Homo sapiens: one gene and its partner. The protein of the gene in region 2 purifies or fractionates together with the protein of the main gene of each other region. This does not show direct contact. Each region holds a gene or a part of one and is shown on either strand. Other genes may lie near its edges.

What was found. Proteins that work in one complex are often made in the same cells at the same time.
Region 1: the proteins of QKI (region 2) and RNF6 purify together in Homo sapiens (affinity purification with western blotting; one study listed by BioGRID). This does not show direct contact.

The regions. Positions count from the first base shown.
Region 1 is NC_000013.11:26,215,815-26,219,314, forward strand, and holds part of RNF6 (E3 ubiquitin-protein ligase RNF6), read right to left. Parts: intron 2,793-3,500; coding exon 2,697-2,792; intron 1-2,696. UniProt on the Homo sapiens protein: E3 ubiquitin-protein ligase mediating 'Lys-48'-linked polyubiquitination of LIMK1 and its subsequent targeting to the proteasome for degradation. Negatively regulates axonal outgrowth through regulation of the LIMK1 turnover.
Region 2 is NC_000006.12:163,557,718-163,561,217, reverse strand, and holds part of QKI (KH domain-containing RNA-binding protein QKI), read right to left. Parts: intron 1-3,500. UniProt on the Homo sapiens protein: RNA reader protein, which recognizes and binds specific RNAs, thereby regulating RNA metabolic processes, such as pre-mRNA splicing, circular RNA (circRNA) formation, mRNA export, mRNA stability and/or translation.

The sequences.
Region 1 (3,500 bases), on a different chromosome or scaffold from region 2:
TACTATTTATGCAACGCTATGGAGAAATCCTCATTCTTACTTTCTATCTGCCCATTACTAGCAAAATACTAAGGCAAATGAGAAACATGTCCACTACCAAAAGTTTACATTTAAATTGCTTTATCAATATAGTAATATCAATAAAATACAAAGACAAACTTTATGTAAAATTTGTCCTGTATTTGTGGAATCTTTCTGGAAAAGCCAACTCAGTCATTTTTGCAACTAGGTATTTCTGTAATCTTAGAAATTTTTCCTATTTCTCAGGTGCTGCCAAAAATGTACACATCAAGAAATGTGAGTTTCTGAATATAACATTAAAACCACATTACTGTATTTGTCTTTGTGTGAAGCTGAGAAACCAGGCAAGTTACTTAAGGTCTCTATGGCTGATCCTTGTCTATAAACTGGAGTTAATAATAGAATCAATCTCATAGGGTTATCCTGAGGATAAAATAAGACGCTATATATAACATAATTAGCATAATATCTGGCACATAAAAAGCCACCCCATAAATGTTAGCTGTTATACATAATAAAATACATTTTCTATTCATTTAGAACGTAAGCTCCAGGAAAACAAAGATTTTTGTAGTTTTAGTCACTGTTACATCTCCAGCCTCTACAGCAGTATCTAGTATAAATCAGACTTTCAATTAATATTGCTCAATTAATCAATTTAGAAATGTGTCACCCATAAACTTTTTTGACTAAGATACTGCCACTGTGCCAAGCTTAAATTTTCCATTTATAACCAGTAGATATTATATAAAGTACAAAACTTAATAAAAAGCATCAACACATTAACTACACAAACTTCAACTTTAAAGTTTGTTCTACTCAAAAATAGCTATTATAGGCCGGGCGCGGTGGCTCACACCTGTAATCCCAGCACTTTGGGAGGCCAAGGCAGGCAGATCATGAAGTCAGGAGTTCGAGACCAGCCTGACTGACATGGTAAAAACCTGTCTCTCCTAAAAATACAAAGAAATTAGCCAGGCATGGTGGCGTGCGCCTGTAATCCCAGCTACTCAGGAGGCTGAGGCAGGAGAATTGCTTGAACCCGGGAGGCAGAGGTTGCAGTGAGCCAAGATTGTGCCACTGTACTACAGCCTGGGTGACAGAACAGGACTCTGTCTCAAAAAATAAATAAACAAATAAATAAAATAGCTATTATATGACATCATTCTGATTTCATTTCATTCCTGCAATCTCTCTCGTAAGACTTTTTTAAATGCTGAAGTTGAAGCTATTAATCAGCTGTTGATGCCAATAAAATAAACAGCAACTGAGCCATATTCCAGAGATGATGAGCTATTTTATATTTGATGAGTACATTTTCCACTGAAACATATTCAAAAGATCAGTATTAATTATTGCATCTATATAGTACAACTTACATATCTAAACACAAATAATAAAATGTGTTAATGTCCACTTCCCATTTGTTTGGAAAAAGAATGAGTAAAAGGCAGGTGAACATGAATTATTTTAAATGCTACTTCCTTCTTTGATTAACATTTGATTAAGTGTAGTGATGATGGTGCATGTGAAAGAGTTTGCCAAGTACCTACTCAAAGCTACCCTACTCTTCTTCCATTGTAAAAGCATCGGAAATTGGCTCGTGGACAGCCTGGCAGTTAGGTGTGACCATGAGACTAAGTTCTCATGAATGGAATGGGAGAGTAAGCGATACATCCTACTCTCACGCTAGTGCGTGGACCTCCTTCCTACCAGCTAGAACCTAGATATGGTTGCGACTTACCTTGATCATACAAATGGTACCCTGGAGCAGTGATGCCCCATAAATCTTTCTGAAGTAATGAGTATGTTCTGTATTTGTGCTGTCCAATACAGAAGCCACTAGCCAAATGTGACTATTAAGCACCTGAATGTGGCTAGTATGAATGAGCTAAATTTTAAATTTAATTTGATTTTAATTAATTTCCATTTAAATAGTCACATGTGGCTAGCAGCTACTGTACTGAACAGCACAGTTGTAGAATCATTCTGTTAGCTGAGTGGGTTCCAAGAGGATTTCCTTCCCTGGACTGTTAACGTAAGTAAGAAACTTCTAGCTTATTGAGCCATTGCATTTTGGGGTTTTTACATAGACTTCATGGTAACTAATACAATGATTTTGATATAATATGTGAAACTACTAATAAATACCTCTGAGGAGGGAAGTAGAACTGGTTAAGAGGAACACAAAAGTGGCTTTTCCTTTTAACTCTACATACTTCATTTAGTTTGAAGTTCTTTTATAGTACTTTCCTTATAAGAACTTTTTATATGTAAACCATCAAACAGAACAAAGAAACAAAAACAGGTTTCCTAACTCAGTCTTTCTACACGGTTCTGTATATAAATTTTTAGAAGCTAAGTAATATCACTTTAGAAAAAGTAATGTGTACATTCCAAGATTAAAAAGAAGCATGCTGGGAATTAACTTAATTGTATATTATTACATAAAGCTCTCTGAAGGCAATCTGTGTGTTTAAGACATCTTTGCATTCATTCCTCTGTCCTATACTGCTTAACCATACTGCTTTACTACTCATATATATATTATCTGAATGAGTATCACATTAAAACTGGAAAAAATTGAAGACAAACATACTATACAAGGTCTAAGAATTTCATTTCTGCAAGTGCTCCAATCAAGCCTGTTCCTTATGGAAAGGACTCCATAGTACCTCTGTAATTCGTTCCATCTCTCAAGTCAGGCTGAGATGCTAGTTGTTCCTTGACGCCATCTAACCGCTGTTGCAGTTCTTCTGATGTTATTTCTCCTAAAACAATGAAAAACTGCTCATTTAAGAATTCTGAATTAAGTTTTATGAGACCTCATGAAGGGTAAGACTAATCTTTAGTAACCTATAGAAGACAAATGTCTTATTACTTTCATATGTTCTGTAAATTGAAGACAGTTAAAAATATTCAACTGGTACAAATGTGCATCAATTCGGTTGTGCTTCATTTATTAATCTTTTATTAAAAATTATTAAAATAAGATTTAATTTGAATAGTTGGTAAAGTGCTGCCAGTTGATACACTTAGGAATCTATAAGCTATAACTGTGGATTTTTGTCAGTTAAAAAGAAATTAAGGGAGCATTTATAGAGAAAACTTCAAATATTTACTTGAATTTTATCCCAAATACTTCATTATATGGGTCATCAATATACAAACACACAATATATAAACATACAAATTTCCATTAGTTCATTTGTAAAAACTTTATGGAACACATTGGGCTTTGGGGGGAGCTATTAATTCAGCTGAATAAATAAATTATAATACCCCAAATGAGTTCAAATTGGGTTTTAAGTCATATTTTATTTGTATAAAAATTACAAATAGGACCATATATGTAAATACTTAACACCATTATGTACATTAACCTGTTTCTTAGTTTGGCATTTGTATAATAGTGCTCCATGTCCCCTATTTTCACCTTATAAAATACAGAAGCCAGTGATTTTCTACTTTATTATACT
Region 2 (3,500 bases):
GATTTGATTACAGAATTTAGGTAAGGAAATTTTATGCTTAATTCTTCAAAATATGAAAACTCAGTGAAATAATAACTTCTAAAAAACCGTATATTCTGCTCTCTTACACCACCATCCCTGTCTCCTTTCAATCTAATTAGCAAGTGCTATCAATGCTACAGCAATCTATCTTTAGGGTCACCATATGATTTATTGTCCAAAGCAGAAAACTTTTAAAAGCAAAAATGGGCACTAATAATAACCATGCTTCAAACCTAAATCAGGATAGTCTCTAATCATCAAAATGTTTGGCCACCCCATTTACCTTGAATTGGTCCCACTCTTTCCATTTACTGTTCCAGTTGTTTTTGGCATAGCACCCAAACTACTAAAACATGTTGCTAATGGTGTCTGTTCTCCAATCAATCTCTACACAAAGGCCAGATTAATTGCCCAAATCACAATTTTCATCATGTTTCTCAACATTCTGTCTCAAAACACTTTCATGGTTTCTTACTATCTAAAAATATAAAAAACTTTAGTTGCCTATAATCTGGTCCCAAAATATCCTCTCAAGTTAAGCCCATTAACCTACTACTTTACACACGTATGTAAGTAACATCTTAAGTCAAACCAGATTGCTCTCCACCATTCATCTCTGTGCATATTCCCACTTCCTCCATCCTAAGTGCTCCCCTGCGCACTCTCTGCCCCTCTCTCTTTCCAAATCCTACCTATCCCCATCCCCACAAACTTCAACCTAAATGCTACCTTCCTTCTCCAGGGGCCATCCCTAGATTACAGTAGATCCTCACTTAATGTGGTCAATACATTCTTTAAAACTAACTTTAAGTGAAACGACAGACAGCAGGTCCTCAAATAATGCCACTGCTTTCAACATGGTTTCATTATAACATTGATGAAAAAAGAGGCTGCAATATACTCATTTTGTTTAAAGTTGTATCTCCAAGAACCTATCGACAAAGTTAATTGCTTCTACTTCAAATTACAGTCTGTTGAGTATCACCACTCCCAAAGTAAGCTCCATGAGAATAGGGCTTATTTCTTTGTTACCACTGCCTAACCCCATGTTCCCACGGCCACCCCCAAGTTACTTACTAGAACTTATAAGTGACTGGTATGAGAAGTCTTTAACTTTATTTCCAAATCCCAAATGTCTCAGTCCAACATAAACTTTAGCCACAGTCAAAGCAAGCAGTAGATGAGGGTCCATCTATCAAAGTCTGTGTAGAGATAGAACTAACTGCCCCCCACTTTTATGTATCATCGAATCCCAGTAACTTTACATGACTTTGTGATATTTACAATGAAAGTAACACAATGCAACAATTTTCTGACATAGTCTTGTTCCTCTCTGATTCATAAAACGGGAAGGACGACCAGGACACAGGCTTCTCAGTGCTCCTTTCTATTATAGCTGTAATGACACACAAAATTCTGTTTTTGGCATTACAATGGTGAATGGTATACTATAATATATAGTAAACAGAACTGTTCAGTGAGCTTTTAGTAAATCACAAGAATTAAAGAAAAATATGAGTGAAACATAAAGACAATGTTTTGATGTGCTACTGCCAACTTTTTAAAAACCTACTTTGCAGAAGATTACAGGGAGTGGATACTGGCATGCCTGTAGAATTTGACTCCTATCAACTTGTACAAAGATGAACAAAAAGTAAGTATGATCTTAGAAAGACACAGAAATTATTTGTTAAAAACGAAATAAGTAAGCTACTATTGGAAAAGAAGAATCAAATCCATTATAATAAAACTTCAACTTATTTGCTAAAAACTAGTCATTTGAAAATTAAAACTTATCAAAAGTTTCAAATTTAAATTTATATATAAAAATGGAATACCAAAAGTATTATAAATTATACTCTACATAAAAAAAGAAAAAGAAGAGCAGTAGGTTTACCTCCAGTCATCTACCATAGCGAGAAAGAAGTGGTACAAGTTTGAAAATGTCAGCAAATAAGAGGGCAAATTTACTTCCAACAAAGAGGAAATAAAGACGAAAGACGAGTTTCCTGCAGAAGGGCAGGTGCTTGAAAACATGTTGGCACTGAACTGCTCCTTTTGGATAGCAAAATAGCTATTCATTATTTGGCAATGGAGTGTCAAACAAGGGAGAAAACCACAGAGAAAAAAGATGGAAGAAATGTGTGTGATTACCACTGTGTGTGCACACTTGTGTAATGTGCAGGGTGCAGGATAATGAAAACAGGAGAGATCACCCTAAGAGAATAAAAATAAGAGTGGCATAGGAGGAGATCCTGGTGTAGTCTGCCATATGGTGTTGCTGGAGGTGATGGTATGTTACACCAGATCACAGCCACATTTTGGCAGGGTACACTAATGCCTCCCAGAAATGCACAGGATTTAGTTGGCAGAGCTGGAATTTGATTCTAGGTGGTCTCAGTCCAGGATGGGCTTCACCCTCATGTCCTGACCACTCCCCTCCACTCTGTATTCACAGGGCATGATCTTGTGTGTCTTAAGAGACAACAGGGTTCACTGGCCGGGTGTGGTGGCTCACGCCTGTAATCCCAACACTTTGGGAGGCTGAGGTGGGCAGATCATGAAGATTAGGAGTTCGAGACCAGCCTGGCCAACATGGTGAAACTCTGTCTCTACTAAAAATACAAAAATTAGCTGGGCGTGGTGGCAGGTGCCTGTAATCCCAGCTACTTAGGAGGCTGAGGAAAGAGAATCGCTTGAACTTGGAAGGCGGAGGTTGCAGTGAGTCGACATCGCGCCGTTGCACTCCAGCCTAGGCAACAGGGCGAGACTGTCTCAAAAAAAAAAAAAAAGAAAAAGAAAAAAAAAGAAGAGACAACAGGGTTAATTATAGAATTACTTTCACATCGAAGTGGTTATTTCAATGTTACTGTCCTGGTTTTGACAATGAGATTTGGTAGTACGTACCTGCCTAAACACTGTTGAAGGTATATATCACCTCTTTTTCAAATATAAGTTCAGATGAGAAAACTAAGTTTCTTCTACAGTCTAGAGGCTCTAGAGCTTCTATGAGCCAGTCTTCAGACCAGTTTTTCTGACCTCTTTTTTTCTCAAAAATTACAACTGATCAAACAGGGCATCCTGAAGTTGTACATGTCAACTCCAGATAGTTCACAAAGTATCCTGCAGAACCTTGATCGGGAATGAGCAACTCTACAGAGACAGAACACTAACTTTTACATTTGTAAAATGGGTCATTAAAATCATATTTTGTAATACTGAACTCAAGTGATTATCCGCAATCTCATAGCTTCTGGTTTCCTAAGTATTTGCCCTATATTCAAGAATCATTTAAAAAATGGAAGCAAAATTCACATGCAGTGGACTCCCAAGATCTTAAGTGCAATATCCAGTCACGATATTTCTTTTTTTTTTTTTAAGTTTTTGTGGGCACACAGTAGGTGTATGTATATATAAAGTACATGTGATATTTTGATACAGGCATATAATGCATATTAATCACATCAGGGTAAATGGAG